Homo sapiens: one gene and its partners. The protein of the gene in region 2 interacts with the protein of the main gene of each other region in a pairwise test. Each region holds a gene or a part of one and is shown on either strand. Other genes may lie near its edges. The genes, in order: MFSD6, TMEM237 and ERMP1.

The links.
Region 1: the proteins of TMEM237 (region 2) and MFSD6 interact in binary tests that used the Homo sapiens proteins (3 or more experiments, as listed by UniProt).
Region 3: the proteins of TMEM237 (region 2) and ERMP1 interact in binary tests that used the Homo sapiens proteins (3 or more experiments, as listed by UniProt).

Annotation. Positions count from the first base shown.
Region 1 is NC_000002.12:190,411,311-190,414,967, reverse strand, and holds part of MFSD6 (major facilitator superfamily domain-containing protein 6), read right to left. Parts: intron 1-3,657.
Region 2 is NC_000002.12:201,623,095-201,626,660, reverse strand, and holds part of TMEM237 (transmembrane protein 237), read left to right. Parts: intron 1-513; coding exon 514-635; intron 636-2,338; coding exon 2,339-2,406; 3' UTR 2,407-3,566. UniProt on the Homo sapiens protein: Component of the transition zone in primary cilia. Required for ciliogenesis.
Region 3 is NC_000009.12:5,808,995-5,812,651, forward strand, and holds part of ERMP1 (endoplasmic reticulum metallopeptidase 1), read right to left. Parts: intron 3,224-3,657; coding exon 3,131-3,223; intron 2,330-3,130; coding exon 2,117-2,329; intron 1,238-2,116; coding exon 1,017-1,237; intron 1-1,016. UniProt on the Homo sapiens protein: Within the ovary, required for the organization of somatic cells and oocytes into discrete follicular structures.

The DNA of each region.
Region 1 (3,657 bases), about 11 Mb from region 2:
CATGGTAAAATGCATCATGTTAAATGAAAGAGCAGGACACAAACCTCTCGATATAGTACAGTTTATATTTGTAAATCTATGTAGCTCAAATAAAATGTATTTTAGAAAAAGACTCGATAAAAATGACACCAAAGTGTTATCAGGGATTATCTCTGAGTAGTAAAATTAGGACTTATTTAATTTTTTTCTTATACTTGGCTGGATTTTTAAAAAATCATTATTTATCACTTTAAAAATACATATTTAAAAAGGAATTATTTTAAATATAAAACATTTGAGTGACAATTAGGATGTCCTTGTTCCCGGAGTTCCTGAAAAATTATAGAGTTATTAAATTGAGGTCTGATCATTCATCTAATGCCTTGTGCTTCCCAGTATACGGAATTGAAAGGGACTGTCACAAGGACTTTGAGACACTCTTAAAAGATATGCACACCTTTTACAGGGAGCCTCATTACACAGAAAATAAAATTGAAATGTGTCATGTTTACTCATTCAAAAGAATCATAATAAAGTCTTTTATTTAAACTCCCTTATAAATGTGAATTGGGGCATATTTGTTCATTAGTTAAACACAATTGCACAGGCATGATTTTGAAATAGAATTAAGAAAGGCACTCCATAATAGCTAAAGAAGCTTGCCTTTGCTGGATTGGAGCACGTTAATCAAGAACACAGCGCTTCTTTATTTTATGTTCCAGGACACATGTGCAGGACATGTGGGTTTGTTACATAGGCAAACGTGTGCCATGGTGGTTTGCAGCACCTACCAACCCATCATCTAGGTATTAAGCCCCACATGCATTAGTTATTTATCCTGATGCTCTCCCTCCCCCTGCCACCCAACCCCCCAGACAGGCCCCAGGAACACAGTACTTCTTAAAAGTCATAGGCAGCATGCATGTCACTTTGTATGATTCTGCTTTATGTGTTTGGTGTGGTGCCTTCCTCCTTTGCTCTACCTTGAGCCAAGTACCTTGAGGCCAAGTATGTTCTACCTTAACTTTGTCCCTAAAAGTGCCCTGAACAGTTAAGAATTCCCAGCGTGACTCACAGGGACCCACTCCTGCCACTGCTCCAGTGCTCAGTTTCTCCTGGAATCCTGGGCCCTGACTGCCATGTCTCCTCTTCACCCCACAGTATAGCAGGGCTCATGGTACATTGGTTTATTGGAGCTCAGAGAGAGCAGGCCCCGTGCAGAGTGGAGTGCACCTGCCTGTGGAACAAGGTCTCTCTACATAACCAACACAGACTGCTAACTACCAGTCCAGGCTCGCCACTCACTTTCCTTTGGCACGGTTAACCCACACATCGGGCTTGTTCAGGCAGCACCAGTTCCTCCTTTTTATCCTCCTCAAAGCCACACACCAGAGCTCACTCTGCCCACTGCTGATTCATAGTGTCCCTGTCTTTCCCTGTCTTTCCCCCATCCCACTCTTGGTCTCAGATCAAAATGCTTCCAAACATTTCCTCAGAGTCATTCAGAGCTGGCCTTTCCTGTTTTGTACTTGCCAAATGTTTCCTGAATTGGTCTCCCATTCTAAAACATGCCCCACAACAAATGTCAAAGAAAGACATCTCTGCCCCCCTTAATTCAATTTTTTTCCACATCTCTTGAACATGGTTTTTTAAGGGTCTGAATTTCTTCCCATCTTTGCCCTATTCTCCCCCATTCTACCCCGCCCCTCCCATCCTAAAATGCAGCAGGACCACCAGGTCACAAGGTAATACAGAACTCTCACTCACATCTCTTCAACATAATCATCAACACGTGGCTCAGCTAGATTTACATCATAATGGATCAAGGCAGGGAGAGGCTACTTTGAATACATACAACATTGGGATGTAGTTTTTGTTGGTGCTGAGGTAGAGGTGGGGGTTTGGGAGGGTGTGCTCTTTTTAAAGCCATAACATAGCAACCAGTAACTATAGCAGACACATATTAACATATAGGCTCAAGGTTTAGGTGTTCCACGTTTGTAATTATTTATTATTTGGTTGGCTTTTCTGTTTTGGCCCCTGCACCAAACATCACTTGTCTGAACAAATGACTGGTAGATTCCAAAAGTTGCCCAGCCAACTTGAGACAATGCCATTTTGCAAAAACAGTAAATAAATATCATCCAAATGTGGGCAATCAAAAACAGCTACAAAGCAAATGTTACTGAATCCAGCAGTGGGGCTAAGTACTGGATAACGTATCATTCAGAATTTAGGAAAACAAATCAGGCTGACACAAGCCCCTCTCACCCCCAAAATGCCAGTAGAGTAAATGGGAACAGACAGCTAATGTTGGATAATTAAACATGGAGGAATTATAAACTCAAAGGAAATGTTCTTGGTGGAGGCATTAAGGTGTTTTCATTGCCCCACACAGAATTGACATCAGATGTGTTTGTTTGCTTTTCCCAGGAATCAAAAATGCTATGCCCAAGGAAATGCCATGTTAGTTGAGTTTGAGGAAGAAATTTTACCCAAACTGGCCTTGTAGTAGGGTAGGACTTTGCACTTGATTTCTGCCTTTAAAGATAACCTATTGAACAAAGTTTCCTAAATTAAAAGATGGAGATTTCCTTCTGCCTAAAACATAATTAGAACCCAAAATGAAATGTTGGATAATACCTAAAATTGTGAGAATATCTCTTCTGTAAAATACTTTTACAATTCCCTCTTTCTCAAGATTACCTACTACCACAATGATAATTAACCAAGTTTAAGCATGTGTTTTCTTGATTCTGAAAAGTCTGAATGTATTATGGCTCTGGATTTCTAAGTCTGGAAATGTATTAATTTTTAAGGATTCTAAGCAGTGGTTTTAGTTAATTTTACATAGAATTGGATAGAACTATGGGACTGTATTTAACAAGTACATATGCATCAGATTAGTTTAACTTTATGATAACTTGCTTCTCCTAAATTGTTACTAAAAATAATTATACCTAAAGTCATCCAGAATGCCATAATTTCATGAGATGACACAGCAGGTAAATTGGTTTCTCCAACTCCTACCTTCTACCAGATTGTTCTGTACAGAACAATCATGCTTCCAAAGACAGCCACCACTAGCAAGACCAGGAAGAAAGAAATTCTTATCACCCCTAATCAAGCAGATAAATTGTGTATGCTCCAAAGCATTCTTATTGAGGAGGAAAACTGAGGAGTTGTAGAATATGCTACAGTTACTATTAGAAAAAGTAAAAGCCAGTCACCTGAGACTCTTTACCCTTTGCCCCCCAATTCTCAGTATGCCACCTTTCACTTTGATCTCCTGAGTCTCATTTCACTTCCCTAACATTAGAGTTTAGGCACATTCAATTTTATCTTACTTTGGATTGTTATAAAATCAATTAATTCTAGTCTTCTTTTGTTTTCCTTTTTAGTTTATATAATAAGAGAACACATGCTTGTTCCAAAAACAAAATTTTAAGCCCAAACATAACTTTATAAGGTAAAAAGCAAAAACATCCTCTTTTCTCCATCTTGTCTCACTTCCTGAAGATAGCCACTGTCGGCTGGGCGCAGTGGCTCATGCCTGTAATCCCAGCACTTTGGGAGGCCTAGGCAGGGGAATCATGAGGTCAGGAGATGGAGACCATCCTGGCCAACATGATGAAACCCCGTCTCTACTAAAAAAATAAAAATTAGCTGAGCCTGGTG
Region 2 (3,566 bases):
GAAAGAGCGGAACAGGGAGAGCCAACATCTGCAGATCAGCGGCCAGCCATGAAGCTGACAGGATGGCTGAGATTATAGTTCATAAAACTTAGAGAAGCAGTCTTTTTTTTTTTTTTTTTTTTTTTTCCCCAAATGCTGCACGTAGCATCCAAAAGTAGTCTTTTTTGAGAGAGTGGCTAGGGACATTAGGTAAAGAGAAAGCAAAGATACTTTATTGAGGATTAATGTCATGGTAGTTGGAAGGAAAACTTTTAGAGAATTTTCTTGGGAATACTAACTTTGCATTTATATGAATGTATACAGCAGATCTGTTCAGAGTTTAAATAACCTTTGAACCCTTGTTCTCATTATATATGTGGTATATTTTACAGGGAAATTATATTTTCTTTCACACTTTACTTGTTATTTCTCTAGGAGAGGACTGCTGTTTTTTCTTAAAGTTCATAAAATAGATATATTTGTGTATATGAACCAAACTGAAGGCACTTCTAATGAGTGTTTCTACATTTTTAGGGAAGCAGGAATTGAGGAACAGATTCTCCAGCCATGGATTGTGGTGAATCTCGTGGTGGCTCTTCTGGTTGGATTATCTTGGCTATTTTTGTCTTATAGGCCAGGCATGGATCTTAGTGAAGGTATTAAAGAAAAAAAATAGCATAAGAATATCCTGAAATCTTCTATAATGGTTTTATAAACCTCCTTTTAATAGGTATAGCTTATAATATTCCAATAACAAAGACACATTTAAATTAAAATGATACAAGAAGAGAGAAAATAAAGTGGTGTAACAGAATGCCAAGAGAAGCAGGGAGGAGTGTCTAGGAGGGCTTGAGTCTGGAACTACTTAATGAGGGGCTTCTGTGGCCCTTGTGCATTTTCAGGAGGTATTTCTTCTCTTGGAACCCTTCAAGTAATGTAGAAAAAGTCTTTGCTCTTCACTTCTCTTAGTCTCCTGCTGATGAATTTTGAAATAAATCATGCTTTGTCTACATAGCCTCTCTGTCGGACACATACTCAAGTCAATTATTCTTCCTTCTCTATTTGGTACAAATTCTTAACCGTTCATTGGCTAACAGTGTTTAGTACTCTTTTAACATGCTCAGTGTGCAGTGATTCACTCATCTCTAGTCCCCAGACCCCTTTTGGAACACCTGAAGAAGAATCATCATATTAGCAAACTGCTAACCTTTTATGCTGCTTGAGGAACTGTTTAGTATTTGTATTGTAAATTGTGTTTCCTTGGCCAATGTTCAACAGTTTTACCCTTGAATATCTTTTTTTTTTTATTTTTTATTTTTGGAGATGGAGTCTCGCTGTGTCGCCCAGGTCAGAGTACAGTGGCTCGATCTGGGCTCACTGCAAGCTCCGCCTCCCGGGTTCATGTCATTCTCCTGCCTCAGCCTCCCGAGTAGCTGGAACTACAGGCGCCCGCCACCACGCCCGGCTAATTTTTTGTATTTTTAATAGAGACAGGGTTTCACCATGTTAGCCAGGACAGTCTCAATCTCCTGACCTCGTGATCCGCCCGCCTCGGCCTCCCAAAGTGCTGGGATTAAGGCGTGAGCCACCGCGCCTGGCCAAACATCTTTTATGGATATTTTCTGGGTCTTGGTTATTATTTTATTTTTTATTTGACCAACTATTTACAACCTATCTGCCTCAGAAGCCTTAGCATGCAGAATTTCGCCAACATCTATGCTAAGTAATAGTTTAAATGTAGAAAATGTCAGCTAATAACATTCTACATTGTGGCTGGGATCAAAACTGCATCTGGATTGTGCAGTATTCAGTCTAAATATTTCCAGAATCCTGTTCTTTTAAGGCCATGTTAGTCATACAACATGTGGATTTAAAAAGTAAGTATAAAATGAGATGATAATACCTGGCTTCTTGCGTTGTTTTGATGATTAAATGGGATGACCCATTTAAAATATCCTGGCACACATCTCTTGTTAGTTCCAAGTCCTTCCTCTGTATCTGTCCCCTATGTTTCAGATGATCTGATCACTGTAGAATTAGACATTTTAGCTGTTTAATGATCTTTGATTCTCTAAGTGACTTAAATTTCCAGGTAGGATTGTGTATATTGTCTCTATTACATTTTACTTTTAAGGGGTCTATAATTTAAAATTTAAATATTTTAAAATGTAAAACTTGTACATTTGTTATCAGCTTACCTTTTAAATCATATTTCACTGTCAAGAAATCTTACTTGAGGGCTTTCTATTAGTATATATTATGTCAATTTTTTAAAGGACTATTTATAAATAAGCTATACAACTCTGTTGGAGGTACTGGGAAACAATTTTAAGTATGATCTGTTCATTTTCTTCTCCAGAGTTAATGTTCTCCTCAGAGGTGGAAGAATATCCTGATAAAGAGAAAGAAATCAAAGCCTCTTCATAATACCAGCTCACCTTTGGAGGAATAATGACCCAGTATTTGTCCCATTTTTGTTTTTAAATGTATTTTTATAAGATGTATACATGTGTATTTGTAATAGATTTTTTGATTATATAATACTGAAACATCTCTCAATATTATGAAAAATGTTAAAATTGTGTTTGCTGTTTATGTCTAAACATTAATTTGTCTAGCATTATCATCTTAATGACAAAGGGAATAATGAACTAGAAACCAGCAAGTGAAAGTGTTTATTTCCTATTTTCTCAAAACAGTTGTATTTATAACTATTACCTTAAAAAGCACTGGTTTAGAAAAAGCCATAACTTAAATAGTGTTATAAAATATATATCAGGTTTAAACATAAATTTAGCGAATATGGTAGAAGGGAAAAAAGCCTTCATTTTTGACCTCCCCTTACTGAATAAATTGAAATATGAAGTTTGTCTTTTCTGAAACTGGCTTAGTGATTGAGTATCATGTAATAATTATAATATAATTTAGCTTGAAAGATGCTCTACATTATGACCAATAAAAAGGGAATGTATGTTTTGTTTGAAAAATTATATAACCTAAATTTTTTACCTAGAAGTAACTAAAAAGTTGCTTCTCATTATAATCTGTACTAGTGGTTCTCATATCTGGTTGTACATCAGGATCATAGAGGGAGATTTTAAAAATCTATGTAGCAAAAGAGGCTGAGCAGGGCAAGGCTCAGGGGAATAAAGGAGAGACCTGTGAGCTTGTGGGCTCCCAGTTGACATCTGCAGTACCCTTTCCTCTGTCCCTTTTTTCTGAGTGACAAGAAATAGGAGTAGAAATTCACCATCTCTGTTCTCCAGCTCTTTGTCAGAGAGGTTTCTGGTTTTCCAGGAAATCCCCCTCTTGAGATGGGTCCTGCACTGGGAAAGATCTCTTCAGAACTATATCCAATGGTACCTCAGCTGTTGTATATGAGACCCTAAAGCTCAAGTTGAGGAGAAGACTAGCTATGGGAAAAAATGTTTCAAAGGCTGTTGAGCACATCAATAAAACTATTGAGCCTGCCCTGATTAGCAAGCACCTGAATGTTATAGAACAGAAGAGGATTGACAAATTGATGATAGAGACAGTTGACCCTGACAATAGGTCTAAATTTGGAGTGAACATTATACTGGGAATCT
Region 3 (3,657 bases), on a different chromosome or scaffold from region 2:
AGGCATGAGCCACAGCACCCAGCCCATAGCCCTAATTTCTTTTTTTTGAGACAGAATCTCGCTGTCGCCCCAGCTGGAGTGCAGTGGCTCAATCTCAGCTCACTGCAGGCTCCGCCTCCCGGGTTCACGCCATTCTCCTGCCTCAGCCTCCCGAGCAGCTGGGACTACAGGCGCCGCCACCTCGCCCGGCTAATTTTTTGTATTTTTAGTAGAGACGGGGTTTCACCGTGTTAGCCAGGATGGTCTCGATCTCCTGACCTTGTGATCCGCCCACCTCAGCCTCCCAAAGTGCTGGGATTACAGGCGTGAGCCACCGCGCCCGGCCAGCCCTAATTTCTAATTTTATTTTTGCCAAACAAATTTATGCATTTGAAACCATAATAATATAACAATATTCTCAGTATAAATCATTTGGAACCCTATTTCCCTTCCCTCTGTTTTCCTTAGCAATGTGTCTTTTAACTCCAATGACATACATGCATGCAGAATCTGAATCAACAATATACAGTTAAAAAGAAAAAACAGTGAGGGAAAAACTGAAAAAACTTTAAGTACAACATTCTTTTAGGCAACAAATACTTGCTGTGTGTTAATGCTGTGTGTCAGACACTACCTAAGCACAGAGGATACAGAAATAAATAAAACAATCCCTATCCTCAAGGAGCTTACACTCCAATGGAGAACAGATATTCAAATAACATAAATAAGTGGGTGAGCCCAGGACATATTTACAAACACTGCAGCAAATTCAGTAGAAGGCTGTGCTAACAAGCCTTCCAGTCACCACCACCCTAACACTGTTAACAGCCCGGCTTTATAACCTCATTTGAATTTTGTGACATTACCCTCAGAATAAGAAATCTTTCAGAAAATTAACACAGTGTAGGTGCGTTTTCCATAACCATGCTGAACAATTTTTTAGCACTCAAAAGGCCAAATACAATGAATCACACTTAAGTTCATCTTCAGTCCCTGGAGGCAACAGAAAGAAATCAACAAATATACCAAACACTTACCATGTAATAAAATCTTTTCGCAAGAGTATGTATAAGTATTATTTTGGCTACAGTTGCAGTTCCATACAGACAAACGGAGACATAGAAGTGGTTATACCATGAGAGAGACTGTCCAATAAGAGAGATGAACACTGCTATAATGAGAACGGTAACAAGGCTAGTGAACCAGCTGATCAAAGTGATGCCAAGTCCACACAAGAAGTCCTTCTTGTAGTTACCAGCTAATGAAGAGAAAACAAAAAGTTGAAATCACCATCTTCATCAAATCAGTTATATAACCAGTCAGTAGAGCTAAATGGGCAAACATTAAAACAAAAAACTCCCCACTGTACTTGAAAAGTATGAAAATGTCCTAGTGTTGAGATTGGCCAAACACAAGAACAAGGGAGGTATCAAATAATAATATTCAGGTAACATTTATTAAGAGTCTCTAGATACTAAACACTCAAAAAGATAAATCTTCTAGGAATAGTTCAGGTACATTCCTTATGAAGGAAGAGGATAGTCTTAATCTTCTTCACTTTTGGTATGCTTTGTGTATCAAAATATTAGCAAGAATGGAAGGCAAAGTTCCATATAAAATGTTGTTAAAATAAGGTAACATAAGAAGATAAGGAGTGTGGGGAAAATAAGCGTTGATAAAGAATTATTTAAACTGCTGCTAAATATTTTATCTCGTAACAGCACACAACAACTTAGACTCTGAAACATTTCAAGCAGAAATATTTCAAATAAAAGAAACAGTTTAACCACAAGCAGTTCATTCATACTTCGTGACACTGGTCCATACTAGCTATTGGTCTGTAGTGTGGACTTTTTAATGGGACTTTTCATTAGAAGTCAATCTGTACAAACCATTTTTCAATAGTTTCTATGTGGTACTTTTATGGAGTGCCTAAATATATAAAAATTGACTGCTTCACCAAGACTAAAAGTAAAATAAGCATATTAATTTAATATTTAAAAATTTCTTACAATATAAAGCAAACATTGTCTTAAGATTTTTAGCTTTCTGGGAAGATATAAACAAACTGACTGAAAAACTTCAAGCACATTCTACAGCAATGCCAGTATTTGTAGTTTTAGAGGAAAATACTTACTCTTATGTTTGGGCTGCAAAAATTTTTTGCCCAGGTACAAAACAACACCCATTACCACCATGTAGTTTATGATTGAGCCAATACGAGAGGGGTAGGCAATGACAAACAGGCCCAGCACATCAAAGAAGACCATGTTTCCATGTCGATACTTAGAAGCAGCAGCCAGCATATCAGATGTAGCTAGATGCTTAAGAACTGCTAAAATGTTGTCACCTATTAGTAAAAACAAAAAAAAAAAGAAAGAAAAGGAAAAAGATAAAAAGGCTGAATAAACTATTTGTGATTTACACATACCACTATTTAAAGCAGAAATAAACCATATACTGTTTGAATGAAGAAATGGTTAGAAAGAATGTGAACAGAAATCGCTTTCTACCATCCTACTGCTCTCCCTCACTTTTTTTACTAAATTTCTCAAATAAGGTCCATCCCCTGCCTTTCTCCATTTCCTCTCCACTCAGACGCTCAGCCAACTGGCCTGTATCTTTTCCCTTCTATTAGAACTATTCTCTGTGATCAATTGTACCTTCATTGTTGACAAATCCAATGGCTGTTTCTTGGTACCCATTCATTTAATAATATATATTAACTGTACTAGACACTCTTCTAGATATCAGAAATTTAGTGGTGAACCAAGAGACAAAGGCCTTTCACGAAGCTCAGAGATGCTGAACAAGCTGTCACACATGTGTTAAAAATTGAGGAGAGCTAGCAGAGTTCCACAGGAAAACATCATGGGAGACTAACAGAGCTACATTCTTACCACTCAGCAATCCTCCCAACCCTGGGCCAACTCCTTTTTCATTTCCTCACAATGAATATTCCTGACCTTAATTGCTACACTAGACTACAAGACTAAAATTCAAGATCTCATCTCTCCAACTCCAAAGCCCTAGCTCATTCACATTGCATACTGCCTCTCTAATGCACAGGCCACAGAATATTTACAAGTTTATGTATCATCCCTAACATTCCATCTTAGTGTATATCAAAAGTCTAAATTGGAATACCAACCTGCTCTCTGAATGGAATCTGTTAGAATTCTGTCCGCTGTGTCATACTTGGTGTGATAAATGTATCCATTCTCAATAAAAGCTAAGTCTATTCCTAAAACATATATATAGAAAAAAAAAAGTCATTTTGCTTTAAAGATCAACCTTGCTTTCGACCTATTTCTTTAATAAATTCCTAAAAGACAAAATGTCAAAGCAGTGGCACGATTGCTTTGTCACATTTACAAACGACTGATATAAATTCTCTTCCAAATTCTTACACAGTCTATAGCTTTGGTACATAATTCGATACATAATGATTGAAGAAGTATATTACTCCACAGGTAGGCATTACAAGTCACACAGCAAGGATAGGAATATTGAGTTTGGGAGGTCATGAAAATTTTGCCACCTACATTCTTGCCAGGCCAGAGCCAAATTTTAACTTCAAATAAGTTGTACATACAAGTTGCCAAGGGAGTTGGCAAACCAAGACAACAACGAAAGACCCCTGAAGGATCTATTACCATCTTTTGGGAATGAGGTGCT